Homo sapiens: one gene and its partners. The protein of the gene in region 1 purifies or fractionates together with the protein of each later gene. This does not show direct contact. Each region holds a gene or a part of one and is shown in the gene's direction. Other genes may lie near its edges.

Region 1 (4,805 bases):
GGTTAAGGCTGTAGGGGGGAGGGGCTGGGCCAGGTCGTGGGCGGCCCCTTTGAAGGAGGGAGCTGGAGCGGGGAACAGCCACCCTACCTCCCCCCAAGCCTGGCCCTCCCCCACCTGTCCCAACCTGCTGCCCCCAGGGGCCAGGAGGAGTTGCCGCCAGGCCCCTCAGCGTTCAGGTGAGTAGGCCCTGCTCTGGCTTGGGAGATCAGGCCCCAGGGGGGCTTGGAGGCCTAGAATTAGCCAAGGGTCAGAGGACTGAAAAACAGGTCAGGAAGAGGGTGCCCAGACTTCACAAGAGAGTTTAGGGAACTGAGGGCTTGAGAAGCGGGAATGTGGGGAGGCCTCAGTGTTTAAGGGGACCCGAGCAGATCAGGAGAGGCAGAAGAGGGGCCTATAGGGACTGAGTGATTGCTGGGCCAGGCCAGGAGGCTGGACAGGCTGGCAGAGAGCCGGGCTCCGGAGATCGGGCTGGGGTGTCCTCTGGGGCTGGGGGGCTCAGGTTTCTGCTGGCGGCTTGGCGGGTGTGGGGTTACCAGCCAGCTCGGTTACCCAGCCGGAGACACTAGGCTGGGGGGGAGGGGGTGGGCACAGGGCAGACCCTGGCACCTTGTGCGGTCTCCTCAGGCCCTAAGGGGAGCTGGCACTGTCCAGGCAGACCCTGCTGAGAATCCTGATGGCCAGAGTCTGTCCAAGTGGACAATTGCCTGGTCCAGGGTGGGCACCCTCCGGGGAAAGTCCAGCAGCTCCAGGGCTGGAAACTCTGACGGGCAGAGAGGCACAGGTTGTCCCCCCACCCCCACCCCACATCCGCTCTCGCTGCAAACCCCCCTCCACCACTCATTCTCCCCAACTGGCTCCCAAATTGTGGTCCCCTGCTTCATCCAAAAGTGGGGTGTGGGTGCCCTAAACTCAACCATCTTTTGGCAAGACCAGGCATTGGAAGGCAGGCCTGGTCCCTGATTTAATTCCTCTGCGGCTCTCCACCCCTCATATGCCTGGGAAGAAGGGAATGGATGGTTGGAGCAGGGGGCCAATGGAGAAAGTGGAGAAGTTTGAGCAAGAGAGAACCAAGGGGAAGAGAAAGGAGAGGCAGGGACAGTTCCTGGGAGGAGGCCTAGGGACACTGATGGGGTGGAGAGGATGCGGAGTTCAGGGAGGGCTGAAGGAAGGAAAGCAAAGGGTGGACTTGTGGAGGGAAGACAAGGGTCGGAGGAGGCAATGAGGGGACAGAACCAGGAGGCCAAGAGAGGGGCAAGAGTGAGGGCTGGATGATGGCAGGGAATACCCAAAGGTGGCGGCGCTAAGGCTGAGAGAGTTGCCCCCATTCCTTCCTCCGCCATCTTTTATCTTCCTCATATTTCCCTTGATGGGGACTAAGGGGCTATGGGCAAGGGCTGGTGTCATGGAAAGAAAATGTAGGGAAGCATTAAGGTCTCCCTCATTTCAGGAGCCCCAGAACCAGGACTGGGGGATTTGGAGCTGGGCAGAGACTTAACCCCCACAGCACCGGGAAGCAGCCAACTCCCCTCGCCTCCTTCCCCCTTCGTGGCTTGCGGTCTCTCTTCCCCGCCTCGGCCCCCAGGAAGTGTGAGTGCTGGGGGTGGTGAGGTTAGGAGGGGGAAGCGTCATATGGGGGATGGGGAAGGCATGCACAAGCTTGGAGGGGCTGGGGTGGGGAGAGAAGGGCTCCATAAATGTCAGAGCATCCCTGGGCAGAGAACCTCTTCTTTGAAGCCCTTCTAGTCCTCATGTGAGAAGAGGCTCAGCCCCTTTACCTTCCCTCCCCAACTGGGCAATCCAGATGGCTGCAGCTCCTGGGCCCCAGAGGCCCTGGGAAGCGGTGGGGGAAGCTGGAGAACAAGGATTCCTGGGTCCCTTAGGACTTTGGACTGGCTGTCCAATTTCCCCACCCCCCTGGTCCAGACGCAGGCCAAAGCCATGGCTTCGTGCAAACTTAGCTCCAAAAAAACAGGAAGAGAACCTGAGGCTGGAGTTGGGGTGGGGGGGTGGAGGGAGAAAGGAGACAGAAGTAAGGGGGAGGGGTGGCCAGCCAAGGCACCAGGAGCGTTGGGAAGAGCCTCAGGTCTCTCCATCATCCCTGGCAGGAAGATGTTACAGCCTGGTCCTCATCCTCCCTCACCCCAAGCTGCTGCTCCTGGAGAAGCCTGGCCAGGCCCCTCTCAGGCTCCCTGGCAGAGCCTAGAGGTAGGGGCCTTGGAACCTGGGGAGGGGGGGCTCTGCGTGCCTGTGTCCCAGGCCCATATCTATTTTCTCTGCTGCTAATCCTGGTTCCGCCTGCTGCCCCCCACACTAAGCCTCACTCCCCTAATCCCCAGGGTGGGGGAAAGGGGGGTCAGCTTTACTCAGCTGCCCTGTTCAGGGCCTGCTATCCCTGCCCTTCGGCTGGCTCAAGCCAGCAGTGTTGGCCTTCGTGGCCCCCAGCCCTGCACTGGACCCTGCCTGAGGTCAGCACCCGGAAAGAGTTCCCATCTCCCTTTTCTTTCCAAGACCAGGCCAGTGGCCTCCACCTTTTGGTTTCTTGGTGCTGGACATACCCTGCCAGGTGCCCTTGAGCACTGAAGGGTAGGTGATAGGCACTCCCACCTTTACCCCCTCCCAACTTTCTCACCCTGAAGTCTTCCCCCAACCAAGGACAGGGCAGGCTTGACTCAGGGCCCAGTTTCAAGAGAGCTGCCCACCGGCTTGGCCGGTCTAGCAGGCCTGACAGTGAGGGGAGCCTGGGGGGGTGGCGGGAAAGAGGGGAGTGATGGGGTGGGGCCCCCAGTTCTTCCCCCTACCAGGCAAACAGACCAAACAGACCTTGCCCGGTTCCCTGGCACAGCTGCACCCCCAACCACCACACACACCCATGCCCACAAGGTCTTAGCAAGAGGGGGCATGCCAGATTGGGTGGGGATGGGCCGCCTTCATGGGGCGTCAGGGGACTGGGCCCTCTGGGATGCAGAGGTGGGAAAGGTGCCCAAGGTAGGGTGGGCACCCTGGCACCAGTGCCCTGCCCTGGCAGAAAGAAGGGGGAGGCCTTTGCCCCACCCATCCCTCCCAGATGATGGGTCTAGGAGGGCCCCTTGGCCTGGTTGGCACCACCATAGCTCCAGGTGGCACCTATATTGGCATGGGTGTTAGAGCCCTGGGTAAGGGTTAGGGGAGTTTCCCAGAAGCTAGAGAAGCTTATGAACACCCTCTCCTTCCCACACATGTCCTCTGCCTCTCCCCCTCTTTCATTGCTACCTCTTGGCCATGGGCATTGGATTTGGGCCTAAGGAGTTAAACACCCACCCTTGCCCAATCCCTGTGTGAGTTGCGTGGTGAACGAGCCTGAGCCTGTGACCTGACAGTGAGGTCAGCCAATCAGCGCCCCCACCACACCAAGTTGCCACGGAGACCGGCCCTGGGGTGGGAGAAAGGAGGCGGGTTTAGCAGCGGGAATGGGTGGGGTGGGCAGGGAAGGAGGGAGAGGGATGGGGTGAGCCACGTGCCTGCCAGTGCCCAGCTCCCAGCCAATGGACAGCGAGGACAGCCCCACCCATCCCCCTTAGGAGGGACAGGATCCACTTGGGCCCAGGAGGGTGCCTACTGCTGCTTAAGTAGCTGCAGCCACTGTTGCTGCTGCTCCTCCTGCTGCTGCTGCTGCCCACCTGGTTTTTGTTTGTTCCCAAGTCTGGGGGCCATTTGCCACTTGTACCATTTGTAAAGTACAGGCAGGAGGATTAAAGGGAGCAGGGAGAGCTCCCAGATGGCTTGGTTCCTAGGGAGAGAAGTGGTTTGCGGACTTACGGTGGGAACAGGTGAGCTATCTAAGGGTGCCTAGAGGTGGCTTACAAGCAAAGAAGGACATGCGGGTGCTGCTCACCCAAGGTTTCTGTGCAGGAGCCCTGGCCTTGCAATGAAGAGGGCAGGCAGGGAGGCAGACACAGAGAATGCACTTCTTGTGTCCTAAAGAGGAAATTTGTGGCTTGACTCCCCCATTCACCCCCCCACCCAAAAAAAAAAAAAACCTTTCCCCATCAATGGCCAGGTCTGAACAGCTGCTGGAGTGGCAGAGGGGACACTGACAAAATGTCAGTGGGACTTGCCTTAGGGATCATCTGGGCCAGTCTTTAATATTACATATGAGGAACAGGCTTCCTCAGGAAAGGAAGTGACTTGTCCAAAGTCATGTAGCTAGTAGTAGCTTGGTTCCCTCAGGGTGATTTGAGGGAGGGAGGCAGACCTGTCCCCAAGTAGTTTTCTTAACAGAGGCCATCTGTATAGTGGAATCTGACCCCAGGCTAGGCCAAGGCCAGAACATTTATCGAATCCCTACTGCATATCAGGCATTGTGCCATATTTGGTCTCATTTAACCCTCACCACAACCCTAGGAGTCAGGTGGAATTATCCTATGTTACAGATGAGGAAGGCGGCTCAGAGATTAAATCACTTGTTTAAGGTCATGGAGCTAACTGGTGGCAGAGACAGGATTCAAACTCAAGCCTGGCTGACTCCAGAGCCCAGTTCTTTCCAAGCCCCAGCACTGTCTCCAGTTGCTCCAGACCCACAAAATGTCAGGGCTGAAGGTCTGAGCCATTGGGGCCACTACTTCCACCCCCTCCTTGCACAGCTGAGGAAATGGAAGCACAGAGAGAAATGACTTTCCCAAGGTCATTCAGCAAGACAGTAGCAGAGCCAGGATTTAAAGCAGGTCTCACCCCCTTCCAGGCCCCAACCCCTGCCGACACCTCTGCCAGCCTTGGTGCTCTGCACCCACCTCCTGGCTGCTCTGCACCCACCTCCTGTGGCTGGGCCT
Region 2 (4,805 bases), on another chromosome or scaffold:
TGCCCATCTTTCTGATTACAGCCATCCTAGTGGGTGTGAAGTGGTATCTTTTTATGGTTTTGGTTTGTAGTTCCTACTGCATATCTTTGTAGTAGTATTTATGATGAAATGGGAAGTATGCCTTAATAAAGCATTTTTGCTGCATATCAAAATAAGAATTGTCTTTAAAAAACCACTTTTTTCCCTCAGTTATGCAGTTCTGTGAGTTGCAAGCTGAACTAGATGCTATTTTCATCAAATACTGTTTTTACTTGAAAGAATGATAAACTGTGGTCTTGAGATTAATGTACTTAAGTGACAGATATTTCCTCAAAAAAAAAAAAAAAATGAAGTGAGCCTGTCATGTGAAGGAAAAAAACTGGAAAGCATTTGCTGCTGCAGATGACAAAATTTGTGCTTTCCAGTGAAAATTAGAATTTTAGAAAACTCAAATCTATTATGAGCTTGATACCTTCTTAATATTTTTCTGATGAGATGGATAGTGATACTAACAAAGCTTTTTTGATACTGTATTTTAATGTAATGTGCTAACACTTGGAAGATCTGTATGATAGTTCAGTGAACCGGCAGTTTTCAGATGACCAACTCATTATATTATAAAATCATGCATGAGTAAAAGATCCATTCAAAGTGCGAGATAGACCAATAACAGTATAGAAAGTTTACAGGTAGTGTCAGATTCCACATTTGGACTGAACTTGAAGAAACTGCCACCTGTTAAGTTTGGTGTAGTATTCAAAGAAAACCCACAATTGGCTGAAAGGATATTAAGTTATTCTTGCCCTTTCCAGGTAGATATCCGTGAGTAGATACTCTTCATATGGTTCAGCCCGAACCATATTGCAAGAGATTGAATGCAGGAGCAGATCTGAGACTTTAAATGTCTTCTTTTATTCACTCTAGACATTACAGAGATTTGTGAAAATGTAAAACATGGTTTTCTCATTAAACTTTTTTTGTTGTTTTGAAAAATGTTTTTCATAAAATGTTAATTTATGTTAACGTGTAATGGATTTATTTTTAAATGAACTAAATTTAAATTTCTGTTTATGATATGGTAAGTATCAGTATACACATATACTACATGAACAGAAGTTTTTTGTGAACGTCAGTAATGTGTAAGTTTGGAAAGGAGTTCTGAGACTAAAAGGTTTGAGTTAAGTGACAGACTACTGAAGACATAAAAGATAGTTTTTAGAAACTAGTTTTTAATGTGTGTACAAAATTAATGTTACAGCGTTCTATAGGTGTTAGAAAATAAATCTAGAAACTTTGATTTTTGTGGATTTATGTTGGTCATGAAATGAAGTTGGTATAAAGCACCAAGTTCTTCAGTAAAGTAATTTCTTTTCAAATGTTATCAGAATAGAAACACTGTGTATATTGAATACAAAATGGAATTTTAGTTTATTGAATGTTGCCCAGGAAGGGTAAAATAAATACTCCAGAAAGCCATTAAATTTGAATTTTGTCCTGATTTTAAAGGAACGGGGAAATTATTTGAGAAAGTAAAAGTTAAAGCAAGTGAGAATAAAAATGCTGTATAAGACATAGCATATTTAGTAATAAATTCATTTTGAGGATATAAACTTTCTCTTGGTATACTATCTTTCTAATTGGCAAGAAGGGAGATATGTTAAGATGCTTTTTCTCACTAGAAAATCAGAGCAAAACATTTTTGTTTCAGTGTTACGTGTAGTATGCCCAGATGAAAATGCTGAAAACTTTGACATCCTTGGTTTGCCTTTTTTACTTTTTTTTTTTTTTTTTAAGAGACAGGGTCTCTGTTTTCTAGGCTGGAGTGCAGTGGCATGATTATAACGCATTGTGATCTCAAACTCCTGGCCTGAGCCTCCTGAATGTGTAGAACTACAGGCTAGCGCCACCATGCCCAGCTAAGTTTTAAATTTTTTGTAGAGATGGCATCTTGCTATGTTGCCCAAGTTGGTCTTGAACTGCTAGGCACAAGCAGTCCTTTTGCCTTGGCCTCCCAAAGTGTTGGAATTATAGGCATGGGCCACTGTGCCTAGCCTGCACTTTACTTTTGATAAGCATGACATTAATGTAACAATTTCCCAAAATAAAGGAGAAAGTACTTTTTTTTTTTTTAAACCAGGGCTCTGGAACTTGCCTTTTTGTTTGTTTTTGTTAAGTTTAAAGGACCCCTTTAACAAAAATGACCTCTACTCGAGCCTGTATTAAGCAGTAAGTCTGACTTTGTTCCCTTCTTTTTTGGGGTACTTTTACTACTCCTTATCCTTTAGAAGGCAAATCTCCATCTTCCTGGAAACATCAGGCGCCAAGCTGAAACCCTACTAATCTTACATATTTCTGTCCATTTGTGGCCCACTGAGAAATGCATGCTGTTTTAGGAAACTTCATTGTTGTCTCATTTTTACTTTATCGTTGCTGTATATTTGAAACTGGGTAAGAGGAGGCAAAGTGTGAATTTATGTATCTTTCCAATGTCAAAATTTCCCCCAAATTTAAGCCAAGACTTAATTCAGTCTCTCAAATTTTAGTCCTCTGTCAGATTTTGTTTTATCTAAAATACAGTTAATCTTTCAAGACTGGGCACATTTAAAATGGAGTCAGGTGTTTGAAGTTGGAAGAAGAGTTTATAGAAGTCATTTCTTCTTAAAAGCAAACAACTTAATGTTTAGAATTCCCCATTATTCATGAAAAACTGGATAGTTGCAGGTTAACTGGTAGCTATCTTTTTTTGAGAAAATAGAAGCCTTATAAAAGGCAGGCTTTTTTAACTTAATATTTAAGTATTTAAAGATTGACAGGCGAAAGAGGGATGGATCTCTTATGGGCTCCTACTCTATCGGGTACTGTTTAGGTGTTTTTAGGTGTATTATCTCATATAATTCTTTCTTACATTAATCTATTTACTATTCTCACGGTTGGATAGGAAAGTAACTGGCCCAAGGCTTCACAACTAGGCTTTGTTCTTTTCACTCTCCTATAGTGTCTTGGCAGTGTGCTCTTTAATTTATATCAGTATTGTATTTTTCTTCCCTTTTTTTGGTTATTTTTATTTCAGATTTTTTTTTTTTCCTTTTTGAGGGTAAAATACTAGCCTTGAATAAAGTATTTTCTACATGGTAAGTGGAGGAAATGTCTTCTGAAACATTTTTATTTGTGATTCTAACAAGGTGAAAGATAAATCCTTACTGATTTTACCTAAGGGATCACTGTCAGAACTGGTTGATTATAGAAATGCACAAATACTGCTAAAAGGCCAACCCTATTGCTTGAAAAGTAGAGTGTATGATGGAAATGTGGTCTTTTTAGAGTTACAAAAAGAATAGACAAAATGTGATGACTATGATCTGTGCTGATTTTAAGTAATTGGTAGATCTCCTTTTGCCCCTCTTACACAACATAAAAGGTTGTTGTGTAAGACTTTTACACTGTTGCTTTCTGTAGACTTTAAAGTTGTCTTATCAAAAATAACCTGAGGATGGTTTATTTAGGTATCATACCACTTAGCTTGGTTATGTCTGAGTTCCTGTTCATTTGTGAATCATGTATGTATTGCATGCTATGGTCTTTAAATTTTAGAAATTAAGATTTTTATTTTAATGCTTGGGGAAAACCTATTCATATTCTGATTTTCCAACGATTTTTTTGGTTTATTAATTTTGAGACTTATAATTATTTATTTTCTGTACTTAAAGTTGATTTGCTTACAAAAGTAATACATGGCTTGATATGGAAAACAAAAACATTATGGAAATATTTAATGTAGAAAGTGAAATTTTCTCTTATCTCTTAGGAATAAGACTTAGTGTCATATATTTTAAAATATTGTCATAATTATACTGCATATACACTTTTTACAATATTGCTTAATTTTTAGTTTTAGGAGGATGAAAATAGAATAGTCGCCCCCCTTATCAGTGAGGGATAGTTCAAAGACCCCCAGTGGATCCTGAAACCTCAGGGAGTACCAAACCCTATATACACTATGGTTTTTACTATATGGTAATGAGTGGGTAGCATGTATAGTGGATAGGCTGGACAAAGGAATGATTCATGTCCCAGGTGGGATGGAATGAGACAGCATGAGATTTCTTAGTGCAAAGAATGGCATGTAATTTAAAACTTGCGAAGTCTTTATTTCTGGAATTTTTAATTTCATGTTTTCAGACTGTGATTGACTATGGGTAACAAACCATTGTGGAAAGCAAAACCTTGGATAAGGGTATAAGGACTTCCTATACTTGCTAAGTATTTAGGTCAAGAATTACATCCTATTTAATTAGCTATTAATATAGATAAAAGTACCCTACATGCAGAAAAACCCAGAGTTAGATTCATTGCTGAAAACAAGAGCCTGGAGTAGGGCTCTTTTTTGTTAAAGGGGAGCTACAAAAAGTTGTTGCTGTTTGTTATCCTGAGGTATGACTTAAATGAAGATTTACGGAGATGAGACGATGATGCAGGAAAATAGGAGGACATCAGCACAGTCTTACGACCACCACATCTGAACCAATCTGAACCATTGAACTGTTAGCTGAGTGTTTGGATTTGTGATATAGCCAGTATTACTGCTTACAAGAGTTATATATGAGTTTTGGGGCTTGCAGAAATGCCAGACCCAAAATTGTAATACTGAGAAAGAAAGAAAAAAATTGTATTCAAGATGATCCTGCAAACCTAAATTCCAAAATACATGAAGACAAAATCTGTGAAAGATAGCTGATAAAATCAACAATTAGGAGATGAATTCATGTCAGATTAAAGAAAACAAAACATTCTGTTGAAGACTTTGAAAATCAGTATGCTTGCAATTG
Region 3 (4,805 bases), on another chromosome or scaffold:
GATTACAGGCATGAGCCACTGTGCCACCTGAATGTTACAAATTCTTGAGTGAATAAATGATTGATTCAAAGTAGACCAAATAATTTTAAGTAGCAAGTACCAAAAGCCAATTGAATATGGGTTTCAGATTCCATATTACAACTAATCTTTGGTTTTGGTATAGTACTAAAGAAGAAAATTCACAGCTATGTGAAAGACTATTTTCTACACATGAGGCCAGATTGTATGTTTCAACGTGGAATACAGAAGCAGATGAAATAATCCACTCTCTTCTGTTAAGCCAGACATTAAAGAGATTTGCAAAACTGTAAAGTAATACTACTCGCTATATATTTCGTCCTGAAGCATAATTATTTTTCTTTTTTTCTTTTTTCTTTTTTTTTTTGAGGCAGAGTCTTGCTCTGTCGCCCAGGCTGGAGTGCGGTGGTGCGATCTCAGCTCACTGCAAGCTCCGCCTCCCGGGTTCACACCATCCTCCTGCCTCAGCCTCCCGAGTAGCTGAGACTACAGGCGCACACCGCCACGCCTGGCTAATTTTTTGTATTTTTAGTAGAGACGGGGTTTCACCGTGTTAGCCAGGATGGTCTCGATCTCCTGACCTCGTGATCCGCCCGCCTCGGCCTCCCAAAATGCTGGGATTACAGGCATGAGCCACCTCGCCTGGCTGCATAATTATTTTTCATAAATATGCTACTTACTAGTATGTAGTAGCTTTATGGTTTTTGTTTTTGTTTTTTGTTTTTTTTTTTTGAGACAGAGTCTTGCTCTGTTGCCTAGGCCAGAGTGCAGTGGCGCGATCTCGGCTCACTCCAAGTTCCGCCTCCCAGGTTCACACCATTCTCCTGCCTCAGCCTCCCGAGTAGCTGGGACTACAGGCACCCGCCACCACGCCCGGCTAATTTTTTGTATTTTTAGTAGAGATGGGGTTTCACCATGTTAGCCAGGATGGTCTCGATCTCCTGACCTCGTGATCCGCCCACCTCAGCCTCCCAAGGTGCTGGGATTACAGGCATGAGCCACCGCGCCTGGCCGCTTTATTGTTATTTTTAATGGACCTATAAGTATTTACAATTTTTCTGTTTATTTTTATAACATAGGTGTCTGTAGATATAAACCTGTTGAATAGAAACTGATGGAATTTTTGGTTTTTAAGTGTAGGAAATGGTCCTGAGACCAATATGTTTTGAGAATCACTTTTTTAATGTATTGGCTTAAATTTCAAATTTTTGCATTTTCATTTTTGTTGTTGTTGAAATAGGGTCTCACTCTGTCACCCAGGCTGGAGTGCAGTGGTGCCATGTCAGCTCACTGCAGCCTCGACCTCCTGGGCCCAGGCAGTCCTCCCACTTTAGCCTCCTGAGTAGCTGGGAGTACAGGCACGCGCGCACCATCACACCCTGACTATTTTTGTACTTTTTGTAGACATGGGGTTTCGCCATATTGCCCAGGCCAGTCTCAACTTCTGGGCTCAAGCAATCTGCCTGCCTGAGCCTCCCAAAGTGCTGGAATTACAGGTGTGAGCCACCACACCCAGCCCGATTTTCTTAAATAAGCTATAAATGTACTAAGAGTCGACCTTAGAAATATTGATATTATTCACATTTTTCTTTTTAGTTATCTGTGCATTTTCATCCCTCCGTGGCCCTTTTTGCAAAGACCATCCTTCAGGTGAGTCTAAAATAAATCCAAAGATGAGAAATAAGAAAAAAAGTATCATTTTAGATAATCAATAATTGGTCATACAGTGTTTTCTCTAACAGAGAGAATCTTGTACATTTTACTGCTCGTATAAAGAAGCAGTGACTTGTTTCATACAGAGTAGCAGATAACTTTTCCCACTCTGAGATGAGTGGAAGCAATAAGACATTGAAAGCCACGCAGTTATTTATTTATTACCTTCTAGCTCCTCTCCTGGAGAAATACTGCCTCACTTTCCCATTTGCTGTGTTTGCCACTTCAGGGTTTGGTTCCTGATTAATGGTTAGATGGCCTGCATTATTAATATTAGTCTATCCATCAAATCAACATTACATCCTAGAATATGTATGTATATGTATCTGTGTGTTTAATTTTTTAAGTATAATGTGCATGAGAGAGATATTTGAAGAGTCATTTATTGCATATTTGTATCTTCAATACAGTGTAATAGAAATTATCTTTTTCTTCCTTTTTCTTACTTGGATTCATAGACATAATTTGAATTAAGTTTTTAAATCCCCGCTCCACTTTTCAGGGAAACTATATTCAGTATTCAGGGGACCCACTGCAGGATTTCACTCTAATGAGATTTTTGGATCGATTTGTATACCGAAATCCAAAGCCCCATAAAGGCAAAGGTATGCTTCTATTTAGTGAATTATTTGGCTTTCATTTTTAATACATAATAAACAATATGAGCTTATAACTAGGTTTTGCATTATACTGTCATAATTTTACATTTCAGAAAACACAGATAGTGTTGTGATGCAGCCGAAAAGAAAACATTTTATTAAGGATATTCGTCATCTTCCTGGTAAGTATAAACCTTAGACAGTTGAAACTGAAAAGACAATATAAGACAAAGATGCATAAATTGTATTATTCTTTGTTCTAATTTATCAGAATAAAACCTGAGCATCAAAGACATTATCCATCTTTTTTCCCAAGAATAGGTATTCTTAAATCTACTGTATCTGACTGGGCCTTTTTTTTTTTTTTTTTAACTTTATTACAGCAAATTTGAAACATATCCAAAATAAACAAAATAGTATGATGAACCCCCTCCCCATTACCATCACCCAGCTTTGACAGTTGTCACCATTTTATCATCCGTAGCTTCATCCACAACCCCTATGTATATAATTATTATTGCTTACAATTCAGACCATCTTAAAGCTCTCTAATATCAGCTTAGCAGCACAAAAACCCACAGCTGGTTTTGTCACAGAGCATCATTTTAAACTTAATAACCTACTTCTATATTTGCTAGCCATCTTCTGGATCTGAGTCTGTTGTTGTATTCAAAGCAGACATTTCTTTGCATACCAGATCTCATCTCCCTTTTGTTCAGAGACCAGGATTAAATTAGACCTTATAGATCATTTAATTTCCAGTGACTTACTTCACAGAGGTCCAGAGATGTAAAAGGACTTACCCACAGTTAGTAAGTTAGAATTAAAAGCCAAATCTCCTTTTACTCAGGATGAGTCAGCAATTTTTATTCTGAAGAGGTAAAACTGATTTCTTGTAGTTCCTTATTTCTTAGTTTTCCTCAGTATAAAGGAAAACTCTGTTAACTTCCTGTTTATTCCCAGAATGGCACGCATTAATGGCAAGCTTGTCATTTTTTGAGCTGAAAATGACAAGTTTAAAGTGATTATTTATTAAAATAACTCTTTGAATTTTTTATTTCTCTTGAAAGTTGGGTCCTGGATGCAAATGAAGAACAGTAAGAGAACCCTGTTGTTTCACTGTAACGGCACTGACAGCTATGTACTGCCTACTTTATGCTGTAGCCAGTGAAGTTTCAAATGTTGGGGGGGTCTTCACACAGACTTTTTCAGAGATTGTCCCTTGCACTCCAGAGTCCCTTCTGTCTACCTTCCCACACAATTCTGAGATTTTTAGAATTACAGATTATGCTGTATTTTGTCTTAAGAGCTTGAGTAACATAAAGGGGATTGCTATATGAAGTTAAAATGTTTAAATTTATTTTTGTAGTGAACAGTAAGGAGTTCCTTGCAAAAGAAGAAAGCCAAATACCAGTGGATGAAGTGTTTTTCCACAGGTACTATACATAATATAGTTTCATTTGGGGAAACTGCTAAAATTTAAATTTTTAGATTTCATAAAATGCTTCATTTTATGAAATAATCTACTTCAATAATCTACTACTGTGTGTAAATAGACCATGGAACATTAGTGGGAGAAGTGGCCTTAGTTTTAAATGCTTCATTTTATGAAATCTAATCAGCATATTTTGAAAAGATCAAAGGATATGTCTGTGTTTGTTAAGAAAATTTACAAATCCGTCATTTTGCTAATCTTAATATATCTTAGTAAAACTAAAGTAAATTTGGGAGTTTTGTTAATTTAGCATATAAATTTTGTTTTATGCTTCTTTTTGGAATTTAGCCTTTAATTTCCTTTTATAATAATTTTCTTTATAGGCTTAAAATCTACCTTTAATATAGATTTTAATATAATACTTTAAGTTTAATATAGTGATAACTCATGGGTAATTTATCCAGACCATGGCCCTTAGAATGGATTCAGTGCACTGTTATAGAAATAAGTCCTAAACCAACTAGTATCATAACCTAATGCCTTAGGGTAGTAAAGTACCTCTTATCTCATCTGGTTGACTGGTTAATTAGGTTTGATTTGGCTTGTTTTTTAAAATCATTTAGAATGAATAATTTTGAGGGTTTGATTACATCTGTAAATGGCTAAGTTTTGCTGTATTCTAATATAAGAATAGGGCTGATAAAATATTATCTTTGAAATGTATTACACTTAAAAGATTCCAGCTACTTTTTATTGAGTTAAACTATTTTTTGTATATTAGATACAAATTTCAGTCATTTATTTCCAATTGAGTATACTTAAGATTTTACAGTTGTGGTTTGCCACTGGTCATAGGTGCTTTGATGATATATAGTAAGATTAGACCTTTAATAAAATTGTCAAATATATAACATGAATATTATAGGTATTATAAAAAAGTTGCTGTTAAAGAGAAACAAAAACGGGATGCAGATGAAGAAAGTATAGAAGACGTGGATGATGAAGAATTTGAAGAGCTGATTGGTAATTTGTTTTGTTGA

Evidence for each region. Proteins that work in one complex are often made in the same cells at the same time.
Region 2: the proteins of ZBTB7B (region 1) and SP3 purify together in Homo sapiens (affinity purification with western blotting, with the first as the bait; one study listed by BioGRID). This does not show direct contact.
Region 3: the proteins of ZBTB7B (region 1) and CEBPZ purify together in Homo sapiens (affinity purification with mass spectrometry, with the first as the bait; one study listed by BioGRID). This does not show direct contact.

The regions. Positions count from the first base shown.
Region 1 is NC_000001.11:155,008,811-155,013,615, forward strand, and holds part of ZBTB7B (zinc finger and BTB domain-containing protein 7B), read left to right. Parts: exon of another isoform or gene 1-137; coding exon of another isoform or gene 138-176; intron 177-1,447; coding exon of another isoform or gene 1,448-1,587; intron 1,588-1,650; exon of another isoform or gene 1,651-1,938; coding exon of another isoform or gene 1,939-2,205; intron 2,206-2,766; exon of another isoform or gene 2,767-3,806; intron 3,807-4,805. UniProt on the Homo sapiens protein: Transcription regulator that acts as a key regulator of lineage commitment of immature T-cell precursors. Exerts distinct biological functions in the mammary epithelial cells and T cells in a tissue-specific manner.
Region 2 is NC_000002.12:173,947,624-173,952,428, reverse strand, and holds part of SP3 (transcription factor Sp3), read left to right. Parts: intron 1-4,805. UniProt on the Homo sapiens protein: Transcriptional factor that can act as an activator or repressor depending on isoform and/or post-translational modifications. Binds to GT and GC boxes promoter elements. Competes with SP1 for the GC-box promoters.
Region 3 is NC_000002.12:37,213,847-37,218,651, reverse strand, and holds part of CEBPZ (CCAAT/enhancer-binding protein zeta), read left to right. Parts: intron 1-1,614; coding exon 1,615-1,668; intron 1,669-2,233; coding exon 2,234-2,336; intron 2,337-2,443; coding exon 2,444-2,512; exon of another isoform or gene 2,513-3,331; intron 3,332-3,699; coding exon 3,700-3,766; intron 3,767-4,690; coding exon 4,691-4,788; intron 4,789-4,805. UniProt on the Homo sapiens protein: Stimulates transcription from the HSP70 promoter.